4 separate regions of the Homo sapiens genome follow, and all the other regions are reported to be linked to region 4. The links are microRNA targets in miRTarBase. Many come from high-throughput screens and were not tested one by one. Region 4 holds a microRNA gene; each other region holds the end of a gene's coding sequence.
The links. Region 4 holds the annotated microRNA hsa-miR-1304-3p (UCUCACUGUAGCCUCGAACCCC, at 1,368-1,389, shown strand). A microRNA usually pairs through its seed, bases 2 to 8, with sites in the 3' UTR of a target mRNA and lowers its output. Matches are read on the target gene's strand: a 7mer-m8 pairs with bases 2 to 8, a 7mer-A1 pairs with bases 2 to 7 and ends in A, and an 8mer does both.

Region 1 (3,109 bases), not on the chromosome of region 4:
CAATAAAATAGAGCACGTATCTCAGCAGAACTGCAGACAATTATGCTGGTATTACTGCTATTCATTGGTGGTGTGCTGGAGGTTGAAATTAGTCCAGTAAAGCAAGAAAATATATATATAGGTATAACCTAACGACTAAAGTGGAAAAGTAAGAGTCATTATTTACAGATTATGTGATTGTCTATGTGGAAACGGAAAAGAATCATATTAAGTACTTTGGACTGAATGATAACCCTGAAAATTCATATGTTGAAGCTCCAAATCCCAATGTGACTGTATGTGAAAATAGGGTTTTTTAGTTTTGTTTTTGAGACAGAGTCTCGCTCTGTTGTCCAGGCTGGAATGCAGTGGCTGCGATCTCGGCTCACTGCAACCTGTGCCTCCCAGGTTCATGCCATTCTCCTGCCTCAGCCTCCCGAGTAGCTGGGACTGCAGGTACCCGCCACCACGCCAGGCTAATTTTTTGTATTTGTAGTAGAGACAGGGTTTCACCGTGTTAACTAGGACAGTCTCGATCTCCTGACCTCGTGATCCGCCCACCTCGGCCTCCCAAAGTGCTGGGATTACAGGTGTGAGCCACCGCGCCCGGCCTGAAAATAGGCTCTTTAGAAGTATCGTGAAATGATGTCAAGAGATGGGTAGGGGGAGGGAGGGGGAGGGAGGGGAAGGAGAGAGATGGTGGGGAGAGAGAGAGAAAGAGGAGAGAGGAGAGAGGAGAAAGGAGAGAGGAGAGAGAGACCTATTTGTTGGTTTCCTTCCTGTGAAGACATGAGGAAGTGGGCATTTACATACCAGGAAGAGAGCTCTCGCCAGAAGTTGACCATGCTGGCACTCTGATCTCAGACTTCCAGCCTCGAGAAATGTGAGAATATAAATTTGTTTTTAACCTCATTTATTTAAAATTAACAAATTTGTAAGCCATTTGGTCTGTGGTATTTTGTGATAGTGGCCTGAGCTCATTAAGGCAGATTAAAAACAAACAAACAAAAAAACTAAAAATGTGAAGCAGATTTGAAACTGACAAATGAGGCTGGAAAAATTCTGATGTGCAAGCTGGAAGTAAGGTTGGTAAGGGTGATCCTGGTGAGGTGTCATTGGGGAATGAGGAACATGCTATTGGGAAATAAAGAAAATACAACCCTTGATACGAAGTAGTGAAGAACTTGGCAGAACTGTATTCTAGCACTTTGCGGAAGGTAGAGCTTGAGAGAGATAAAACTGGTTATGTATCACTAAGATCTGTACTTAAAGTGTTAAAGGACACAGGAAGCTTCATTCTTCCTGAGTGCTTACAGGAAAATGTGCTCAGAACAGGCCCCCCAAATTTGGACATAAACAGGCCATGAGAAACTGCCCATAAACAAAATCTCTGCGGCACTGTGACATGCTCGTGATGGCTATGACACCCATGCTGGAGGTTGCTGGTTTACCCGAATGAGGGCAAGGAACACCTGGCCCACCCACGGTGGAAAACTGGAAAACTGCTCAGGCATTCCTAAACCACAAACAATACCATGAGTGATTTGTGCCTTAAGGACATGTTCCTGTTGCAGATAACAAGCCAGAGCCTGTCCCTTTCTTTCTTGTAAGGAATACTTTTAGCTAATCTATAATCTATAGAAATAATGTTTATCACAGGCTTACTGTCAATAAATATGTGGGTCAAACTCTGTTCAAGGCTCTCAGCTCTGAAGGCTGTGAGCCCCGATTCCCACTCTGCACTCTATTTCTGTGTCTTTGTCTTAATTCCTCTAGAGCTGCTGGGTCAGGGTCTCCATGACCCAGCTGGTCTCAGCAAAAATGCAAAAGGAGACCTGAATTGCAGAAAAAATTGTTAAGGAAAAAGGAACCAGAACTTGGAGATTTGGAAAATTCTCAGCCTATCCATAATGCAAAAATTAGAAAACTTGTACTGAAGAGAATCCTCAAAGTGTGGCTGAACGATCATCTGATAAAGAGATCATGAGTGGGATTCATGGACTATATCAGCCACCTTGACAGAAGTGAGAAGAGAGACTGGATTATACTAGAAGAGACATTGCCACTTACATTGTGCCATCTAAAATAGACATACAAGGCAGAACAGGCAAGGCTGTCACACTTCTTAGATTTTACAAGGGGACACAGAAATAATCAGCTGTGAAAGGGCACTGGCAGTTATGGATGGTTTCATTCCTGACACGCTCTGCAGGATCCGTGGGATCAGAAGAGACCCTTGGAGGAGCATCTCTTAACAACCCACCTTTGGGGTCCTACATCATCTTGGCTTCTGGTAAATTTTGACATAAATGTGCCACACTGGCAGCCACTAACCAACAGGGGCTGGGGTCAATCTGCATGATTTATCTCATACACAACTTGTTAATGCTATGATCTTAGGAATCTAATCACCAAGGTGAGGCAGCCTGCAGTACTGACCTCACCATCCATGACCCTTCTTCACAGATGCCCAGACTCAGGCAACCATGATGTTGTATTCAGAACCTGTAGGTTTAATTTCAGACCCTCAGGATGGTATCTAAGGCCAATCCATGAGTCATTACAACCTCCAAAAGGCATTTAGGACAAATCTGATAATCTTTGGTGTCATTGCCAATAATTAAAGATGGCAACCGATGGGCTAAATGGTAACACTCATATCCTTGCATTCATAGGGTTTCTCCCCAGTGTGAATTCTTTCATGTCTACTTAGGCGTGAGGAAACAGCAAATGCTTTCCCACATTCTTTACATACGAAGGGTTTCTCTCCGGTATGAGTTCGCAGGTGAACATTAAGGCGTGAGGAATATAGAAATGCTTTCCCACATATCTTGCATACAAAGGGCTTTTCTCCACTATGAGTTTTCAAATGTTTACTACGACGGGAAGAAGTAATGAAGGTCTTCCCACATTCAACACATTCATAAGGCTTCTCTCCTGTGTGAATTCTTGTATGCTGAATAAGACTTGTGGATGTAGTGAAGGCTTTCCCACATTCCTTACACTGATAGGGTTTCTTTCCACTGTGACTTCGTATGTGTATAGAAAGGCCCGAGTACTGAGCAAAGGCTTGGCCACATTCCTTACATTCATAGGGTTTTATTCCAGTGTGAGTTCTTACATGTTCAGT
Region 2 (3,132 bases), not on the chromosome of region 4:
GGATATATCCTCAATGGCAACTCTCCAAGTTATTTTTCTTTGCCTGTCTTTGATATGCCCAGCCCACACCAGCTTAAAATAAAAGCTGTTGGACAGTAACGGTGACTTCATCCCTGCCACCCTGTATATTAGATGGCTCAGCTTAGTGGCTTGTCAGCACAATCAGGTTGGAGGAGTGGAAGAACCTTTGATTCAACTCTTTGGGATAAAGACTTTAGAATACATCTAGCTAAAATAATGAGCAGGAATAACTATTAGAAGCATTGCAGAATCAGTTTGCTTTGCTTGCCTAGCCCTACAGTATGGGAGTGAAGGAGATGGACTGTCAAGTTTTAAAATGGGATACATCCTGCCAAGTGTGCAGTGGTGAAGAACTAAAAGGAAAAAAAAAAGGCTAAGGAGTAACATGAAATACAGATAGCCCCAAACATTTTTGGCACCCCAGGCTTCTTAAGGCCACAAATTAAAATTGAGGACCAGGGAAGCCAGGAATAGTGGGAAGAAATAATATAAAAGCCTAAGATACTAACTCAAGCTCTTCAGCTAACTAGCTTTTCTACTTTACAAGTAACTTATCTCTATACCTTAATTTCCTCACTTGTATTAAAATGAAATTGCACTAACTGCTGGGTGTAGTGGTTCACACCTGTAATCCCTGCACTTTGGGAGGCTGAGGTGGAAAGACTGCTTGAGGCCAGGAGTTCAGGAGCAGCCTACACAACAAAACGAGATCCTCTCTACAAAAGAAAGGATGAAAATATATTCTCAGCCAGGCGCAGTGGCTTATGCCTGTAATCCCAGCACTTTGGGAGGCTGAGATGGGAAGAGTGCTTAAGCCTGTGTTCTGAGACTCACCTGGACAACATGGTGAATCCTCATCTCTACAAAAAATAATTAGCCAGGTGTGGTGGTGTGTGCTTGTAGTCCCAGCTACTTGGGAGGCTGAGATGGGAAGATTACTTGAGCCCAGGAGGTTGAGGCTACAGTGAGTGTTTGCACCCTGCACTCCATTCTGGGTGACTGAGCAAGATCCTGCCTCTAAAAAAAAAAAAAAAAAGAAAGAAAGAAAGAAATTGAATGATCCCACATTCAGCCTCATAGACCTCACCTCATTCCCCAGCTGGCAAACACAAACCAGGGATAACATACTCAGGAGGAAATCATGGGATGGCTCACTAACCCCACCACAATAAACACCATTAACTTGTGTCTCTAGTTTAAATTTGTACTTGTTTTATTTTATTCATTTATTTTTTTTAGATGGAGTCTCGCTCTGTCGCCCAGGCTGGAGTGCAATGGCACAATCTCGGCTCACTGCAAACTCTGCCTCCTGGGTTCAAGCGATTCTCCTACCTCAGCCTCCCAAGTAAGTGGGATTATAGGCATGTGCCGCCACGCCCGGCTAATTTTTGTATTTTTAGTAGAGATGGGGTTTCACCATGTTGGCTAGGCTGGTCTCAAACTCCTGACCTCAAGTGATCCACCCACCTTGGCCTCCCAAAGTGCTGGAATTATAGGCGTGAGCCACCGTACACCCGCTGGAGTTTTTTCTCCTTTGGTAACCTTTCTTTTGTACGTTACATTCACAGGCAGCTTTTAACTTCTTTCAGTAGCAGGTTTCCAGCAATGCAGATTGGCACATCATGAGGAAAGAAATCACTCTGCCTCCTGCTGGCCACCAGCAGAAAGACTTGAGTTTCTTTTGGCTTATTACAAAGAAATAATATATTTCTTTTGGTTTGTCACATTTCTCCCTCACAAACATGGGAACTTGAAAAGGAATGGAAGACAGAGGGAAAAGGAGACTGGGCCTCCTTTTCTGCTAAACCTGGACTAGGCTTAGGTGTCAAGAAACCATTTAGATCAAATATCTTAAATGCCTCATTTTGTGAGCCACAAACTGAGGTTGATGCACCTTCTACATTGGTTACAGAAACAAAGGGATGGGCAAGGTTTATGCCAACATTCCTGCTCCCTTTCCTAAGTGATGGTATTGGGGAACTCAGCCGCATCTCACATTAACAATGTCTTCAGTATTGTTTTCTTCCCCCTCCCAAACCCCAATAAAACACACCAACTGCTTCAGAATATTTCTGGGTTGGGTTTTTTCATGGGTTTTTGTTTTGTTTATTTCGAATACTGAAAAAGTCCTTTGGGCTCTGTGGGGTTCCCCACGCTCACGGCTCCTTTCTCCCACACTCACTGCCCTTCTTCCCACAGCAAATCTATTTCAAGGACAGTACTTTTTAAAATGATTAATGTTGAGTTCTCAACTAGCTCTGCAGAACTAGAGGAGCTGTTTGCATCTGTCTGTGCGGATGGAGTTTCTTTTATCTGACACCAGGTCTCCAACCACACTGAAACAAGGCATTTATCTACAGAGCTCAACTAGAACCCCTTTTCATTAGGCTACTCCACTTCCTTCCCCTCATACCTACCCCACATCAGCCACGTGGTTAAGAAGGATAGTCAGGAATGTTTTTACCAACTCCAAGCCCTAATTCATACTCCTCCATATCTCCCACCCCACCCTTTCAACCCCACCCCCACCCCCAGAATTTCATTGATATTTCTCCCAACTGTTATTTGGAAAAAAGGTAAAACAAAAAAGGTTCAAGGTCTTGGTGCTCAGCCCAAGGGGCTCCATGTGCTGGGACACCAACAGGAAAGGGCTTCTGCCTCTCCAGCCCACACCCGAGCCACCTCCTGACCCCTGGCTGCAAAAGCAGGAAGGGGCAGGAGCCAGCACAGGACCCGGGTGGGGCAGGGAGGGGAAGCGTCTCAGGATCTGGCAGAGCCCCGGGCAGCATCATTCAACTTGGCCACTGCGGACGAACACAGAAGAAAAAAAAAAAAAACAACACTGTCAAGTAATAGGGGAAAAAAACCCTGAACTCCAACCCAGTCTCTACCCCATGATTCCTCCACATTTAACAACCATTAGGCTACCTGGCATGTCTCAATCCTATCCATAAGGGAGTTGCAAAAAAAATCAAAAAATAGAATTTCAGTCTTTTCCTATCCACGAAACAACGTTATCTGCCTTTCTGGGATATCCATGGATAACAAACATAGAAAAATAATTCTTTAGATAAGATCAAAATAACTGGAGGTTTCCAGGTGGGTAAGCTG
Region 3 (3,116 bases), not on the chromosome of region 4:
CTTCCTGTGCAGAGCAGGGTGCAGTGGGTACTGGTGCCTTTTGGTTAATGGAAATTCTTTCTTCCATTGTTCCAGGGGAAAGGCCATACAAATGTCAGACCTGCGAGCGAACCTTCACCTTGAAGCACAGCCTGGTTCGCCACCAGCGGATCCACCAGAAAGCCAGGCATGCCAAACACCACGGGAAGGACAGCGACAAGGAAGAGCGGGGTGAGGAGGACAGCGAGAATGAGTCCACCCACAGCGGCAACAACGCCGTCTCAGAGAACGAGGCTGAGCTGGCTCCCAATGCCAGCAACCACATGGCTGTCACCCGGAGCCGGAAGGAGGGCTTGGCCAGTGCCACCAAGGACTGCAGCCACAGGGAGGAGAAGGTCACGGCAGGGTGGCCGTCTGAGCCTGGCCAGGGTGACCTTAACCCAGAGAGCCCGGCGGCCCTGGGGCAGGACCTGCTGGAGCCGCGCAGCAAGAGGCCTGCCCACCCAATCCTGGCCACAGCTGATGGCGCCTCCCAGCTCGTGGGGATGGAGTGACAGCCTCAGTCCCCCTCAGCACAGACAAAAGCCAGCAGAGCAAAGCGTCTATACTTCATGGGGTTTCCTCAGTGCCCTTTGGCTGTTGAGGAGTGAGAGAGAGAGAGAGAGAGAGAGAGAGAGAGAGAGAGAGAGACAAGCAGGAGCGTGGCTGCTCGCTCAGTGCCATAGCCTTACCGCAGCCTGCGCGGGAGGCCACAGCCCGTGCCGATTCCAGTGCCTTAACTACTTACCGGATCCCTCCATATTATCATGGGTGTTGTATTTTTCCAAAATGACTTCTTAAACAAAACAAATATTATAATGAATTGTCTGGAGAGGACCTCTTCATTTGAGCATTAGCGTTATTTTGTATTGGTGTGTGTGAGCTTGTTCTTGTGAATCTGTGATAGCACCGTTTGTTCTGTGAGCTGGAAACAGAAGGAAAAAACATACCCTTGGGTACCCATAGCCAATAACTGGAAGAAAATGATGTGAATTTCATGTAAATGACCAGAGGAAAGATGGATAAGATGATAATTTCTTAAATAGACATTTTCCTTTTTTCTTTGTGCTTCATGGTGGAGCTGTCATCTGGTCCTTGGTATTACAGGATGTGGTTGATGAAGGTTTCCAATATGGTTTCAGGCCAAAACCAGGGAAGATTCTAGCTTCAGCCTCATGTCCATTTCCAGTCTGTCAGCATTAGACATGGTCACTGTTCAAGTTTCAAGACATCCATTCTTAACTATAGAGAAGAGTTACTCCCCTGGCGTCTTAACCTATGGAAAACATGCACGGATAGGATATATTTGATTGCCTCCTCTTCCCTTTCAGTATATGTATTATTAATATTATTATTATTATTATTATTATTAGTTCATCAGTTTGCTGTTCTCTGCAGTGAGCAGAATCAAATGGGCAATATTTGTCCTGGGAGACCTGTGCCGCACCCAGGTCCCCGTGTTAACGTGTGCCTGCGGTTGTGGTTGGCACCCTCGGGTGGTAGCTCTTCTACTGTAATGAGACAAGCCTTTCTTCTGTCACTGCAGAATTTAGAAGGGGCCGTGAGCAGTCTTCCCAAGCATGGTCCAGGAGCAGCTCAGAGAGGGTGGAGTGAGGATGCATGCATCCAGGGAACAGGCATCAAGAAGCCAGGGCCGTGCCTGGAGCACTGCAGAGATGACTTTGGAGAAAGCAAAGCAGTGACCCAGTGACCAGGCACATTACTCGTGAGCGAGGTATTCCCAGTCTTCCTGCTAAGCCTAATCCAAGCCTTACCCAGCTGTGCTACTGTCATTTGCAAAGCAAGGAAATACTACTACTGGTAATAAAACTACACATGCAAGATGTCAGATAAGAAATAGGTTTATATTTACCTTCCTGCGATGTGGGGTTGGTGCTTGAAGATAAATGTGCTGTTTCTAGTTTCTTAAATAGCCCACACCCCTGGATGCAAAAAGGCAGGGTTATTTTTACCCATGAGCATCCTGTGCAGGCAATAGACTTCCCTCACTGTCTCCGCCTGCAGGGAGGAGAATGTACCCCACTGCACCTGAGCTCCTGGTCCCTCAGCCAAGACCTCAGGGGTCCCCAGCCAGCCTGCTGCTGGGGACCCCTGTGCTTGCTGCAGTGTATGGAGCCTCTTGCCTTCCCCTGGGGAGGCACCCCTGTACCCCAGCTTCCTTCCCCTGGCCTTTTCTGGCCCCAGTGCTCCTCCTTTACATAGACTTGTTCACACAGAAACGTGCACGCCCCCTTTTCTCCGCCACTTCACCAGTTTCTGAAATCCAACCTCCCAGACTTCACAGGAAGATAGATATTCTTGAGATAATGAAAAGTGATATCTTCGCATACGAAAGGAAAAAAGGTTGAGGTATATATGATTTTTAACTGTATTAGGGGTGTATGAACCAGTTTAAAAACGAGGTTTTATTTACTGTAGAGATGAATGCAAATCAGAACCAATGATCCCTTGGCCTACTTAGTTAAAACCAGTTCATACATCCCTTAGGGTTTTTATTATTATTATTATTATTATTACAGTTGTTATTGTTGTTTTTGTTGTTATTATTATTTGGGGTTTCTTGTGTTTTTTCTTTGCGACTCTCCACACTAAACTTGCAATATTGTGGGGAGAAGCTGTGACTAAACTCTACGCTGCGGTGAGATGTAGCAGTAATCAGCTCCCAGCGACGTGTGTAGCTGGGGCTGCCGCTCGCAATAATCACTATTGATTTAAAGCTTTACTTAGCCTTGATCTGTACCCTCGTAGTCAATAAGGTCTTGCCACATTTTATTAGTGAGGTGGAGAAACGTATTATTTGTTTGTTGTTTTTGCCCTTCCCCCACCCCCCAATATTAAACTGTGAAATTTGTGATTTGTTTAAACTCTGGGTGAATCATAGCTTAGTTTGCATGTCCAGCTAATTTGTTTCTATACATTTTGTTTGATTCTCTTTCTCCTTCTCTCAGGGCTTTTACAAAAAAATATATATATATGGATCTTCTGAAAAGTTTTTTGAGGTGCAAGTTTTTTCTCTTTTTTTTTTTTTTTTTTTTTTCTCATTGATTAATGGACATGATGCTGAGATTCAATCACTA
Region 4 (3,132 bases):
ATTGATAGCCATAAAGGTTGGTTCCAGGCCAGGTGCAATGGGTCAAGCCTGCAATCCCCACACCAAGGTGGGAGTATTGCTTGAAACCAGGAGTTCAAGACCAGCCTAGGCAAGAAAGTAAGAAACACATCTCCACAAAAATTTAAAAATTAGCTGGGTACTGGGGCATGTGCCTGTAGTTGGAGTTACTCAGAAAGGGGGGAGGCTGAGGCAGAGTTGGAGGCTGCACTGAGCTTTGATGGCACCACTGTACTCCAGCCTGAGTAACAAAGACAGACCCTGTCTCTTAAGAAAAAAAGGTTGATTCCAGGCCTGTAGAATAGATAAACAGCATGGGATATGAGGGAAATCCTCAGCAGTATTAATTTTGCATTCCAATTTCATGTTGATGATATACACAATGGCTTTTTGTTTTAAAGGCTTTTATCTTGAGAACATGGTGTCTGGAGTTAAAGGTATGTCTCAATTTGAGTTTTCACATCATATTTGTTTATGTGTAGGAAACAGTATGTTGTCAGAGCAAGTTTCATTTTATTCAGGGACATTTCTACCATGCTTTTAATTCCCATTTATACTGATTTCTGAAAAGAAGAATCCTAGATTCACACATTTTATAGTGATGTGTCAGATTCATTTTAGTTGCAAGCATTAGAGGGTCCTGAATTTGTTAGTTTGTAGCAATAATCAGAACTTTGGATTTCCTACTTGAAGCCTACAGCATTATTTTGAATTAATGCACAATCTAAAATGAGGCAGAGGATTTTATGGTTTAATGCAAAATATAGTATAATAAAAGATGATTACACAGGTCATAAGAATTCATAAATTTGAATGATGTAGAGTTTGATTAAAAGTTATATAATGCCAAAGTCGTAACTTACAGGCACATTATATTCCTGTATTTTATAATGGATGACAATTAATTTTGAGCCAAGAATTAAAATTTGCTGAAATCTTCGAATTGGGAAAACAACATCCTCTGTTGCAATACTGAAGTTCATAACAACAGTTAGACTTTAAACTTAAATCTTAAGTTTAAATCTTTTTCCTTTGGTTCATGTAAAGGAGCTACTTGATGTTACTTTTTATTTATCATTCCTCTGGCTCCTAAGCACAACGTGATTGTGAAATTATTGTTTTTGTGATTAACGTAGTAGGAAGTTTCTGCAGTTGGCAATATTGTAAGAGCATATTGCAGTTTCTGCTCATAATTTCTTTCCTATGGAGTGTTAGACTTTGTTATTTATGTGTATAAATACTAGCTGGACACAGTGGTGCCTGTGGTCCCCAGCTACTCTGGAGGCTAAGGCAGGAGAAACACTTGAGCCCAGCGGTTTGAGGCTACAGTGAGATGTGATCCTGCCACATCTCACTGTAGCCTCGAACCCCTGGGCTCAAGTGATTCAGCAAGAATCACACGATTTTTAAAAGACATGGCAGATCCTGTGTCTTTAAAAAAAAATCAAAACCTTGTAAATAGTGGTTGAGGTCTATCCCGATGGGGCTTTTCCTGTAGCCTGCACATCGTTGGAAACGCCTCATAGAGTAACTCTGTGGTTTTACTTTACTCACAGGACTATTGTTAGATCTGTGGGAAGGAATTACAAGACAGTTGCTAAAAGTTTGAAAAAGACGGTTGCTAAACGTTATGAAAAACCAGATAATCTACTTTTTTACCTTAGGTATTGGCATACTCCACACATCTGTACCATTCTTGAGTGATCGCTTAGGTAAGTTTTAATTGGTGACAGTATAATCTTTTGGGAAATAATGATTACAGTTCAGATGATGAATTTAACTGTTCAACTGCTGAATGATAACGGGCATGAACTAAAACTTAATTCTGACAGAGCTGGATATGGCTGTATAATAAACTGGATCTTAAATTTATACTTGGGTTTTAGTTTTAATAACTGGAAATGTATCCTTTCTAAATCTTTAATTGGTACTTTCTATAGGAATGAATGTGATTTGAACTCATTCATGTTGAGAGGTAAGTAAAATATTTAACTTATAATAATCAAGGACTCAAAAGATGAAAAATAGAAATTACACCATCCCAGTATTTCAGGTATAACACAGAATTAGTAAGATACTGGCAAAAATATTACAATGTATATATTTGTATAGAGAAGGAAAATGAAGAGACTGCATGTCTATACCTACCAAACGAAACTACCTGTGTTCTTTGCATCATTATTCAACTGGCAGTTACACATATTTCATCCTAAAGTCACGTAAACCTGTGTGGATATGTTGAATCAATAGGGATATGAATTACATAAAAAGAATTTTGTGTAACTGGCAGTTTGAGCAACAATGAGCTTGACGTTTGTTGTCTGATCTGTTAAGTTACATGTATATATTCCATCTTTAAGTTTTATAGAGAGACTGGGCAAAGATTAGGCAAAGACTAGAGTTGTAGCTTAAAATGTAGTTAATGTAGCTTCCTTATTACAGTGACAATTAGGAAAAAAGCTCAAATTATTGTACTTGTTAAAGGAATTTGAGAGGTTTGTGAAAGCATTTCTCAGCAATATTGCAAATTTGGGAATACGAGTTGTACAGTTCAGTCATAATTGCACTGCATGGTATCTGCACTCAGCAGTTTACACCTGCTAGGGTGTTCAAAGGTCAGTGCTATAGAAATTCAGTATCTGGCATCGTTGGTTTTCTTGGCTTTGTGCTTGTTAAACCTGGTATTTCTACTGATACAGTATTTGTGTAGGTTTCTCAGAGTGTTCAGTTTGATATACTCTAAAATAGTAAGCAATGCTTTTTTTTCCAGGGTGTCAAATTGAGAACCAGGTAGATCCCCACCACCTACAGTAAAAAGGTAAGATTCTCTGTTTCTATTGATTCTGCTTGTTTCCCTCTATCAGTAGCACTGCCAGCATAACAAGAACTTCGTACAAATACACTACTAAGCTTTAAAGACTTTTACAATGCCTCATTCTAGAGAATGGGCACTGTTGATCATGGTGTCCAAAAATAGTTAATGTGGCTAAATTGAGACAGGTTATGCTTCCATCACAGTATGCATATTGCAGTGGTGACAATGAGACCTGTAACATTTTGCTATGTTTATGAGTAAAAATGTAGGAGAAAAATGTTGACTTTTCAATATTAGAA

Region 1: the mRNA of ZNF561 is a reported target of hsa-miR-1304-3p. Seed matches in the 3' UTR shown: 7mer-m8 at 364-370.
Region 2: miRTarBase lists ENSA as a target of hsa-miR-1304-3p. Seed matches in the 3' UTR shown: 7mer-m8 at 2,199-2,205.
Region 3: miRTarBase lists RREB1 as a target of hsa-miR-1304-3p. Seed matches in the 3' UTR shown: 7mer-A1 at 625-631 and 7mer-m8 at 1,414-1,420.

What each region holds. Positions count from the first base shown.
Region 1 is chr19:9,607,580-9,610,688 of GRCh38, forward strand. It overlaps ZNF561 (zinc finger protein 561), which reads right to left. Exons shown (of 6, transcript NM_152289.3): 6 at 1-3,109. The coding sequence ends at 2,621. Among named protein-coding and RNA genes, the nearest start is that of ZNF561, 12 kb to the right of the region's middle.
Region 2 is chr1:150,620,035-150,623,166 of GRCh38, forward strand. ENSA (endosulfine alpha) reads right to left here. Exons shown (of 4, transcript NM_004436.4): 4 at 2,091-2,825. The coding sequence ends at 2,810. Among named protein-coding and RNA genes, the nearest start is that of ENSA, 8.0 kb to the right of the region's middle. RefSeq lists a silencer at 2,619-2,913.
Region 3 is chr6:7,248,436-7,251,551 of GRCh38, forward strand. RREB1 (ras responsive element binding protein 1) reads left to right here. Exons shown (of 13, transcript NM_001003699.4): 13 at 76-3,116. The coding sequence ends at 533. Among named protein-coding and RNA genes, the nearest start is that of SSR1, 63 kb to the right of the region's middle.
Region 4 is chr11:93,731,948-93,735,079 of GRCh38, reverse strand. It overlaps MIR1304 (microRNA 1304), which reads left to right and starts at 1,316; the gene lies at 1,316-1,406. It overlaps SNORA1 (small nucleolar RNA, H/ACA box 1), which reads left to right and starts at 2,947; the gene lies at 2,947-3,076. SNORA8 (small nucleolar RNA, H/ACA box 8) reads left to right here and starts at 2,581; the gene lies at 2,581-2,719. SNORD5 (small nucleolar RNA, C/D box 5) reads left to right here and starts at 1,780; the gene lies at 1,780-1,852. It also overlaps SNORA18 and a transcript of TAF1D not described here.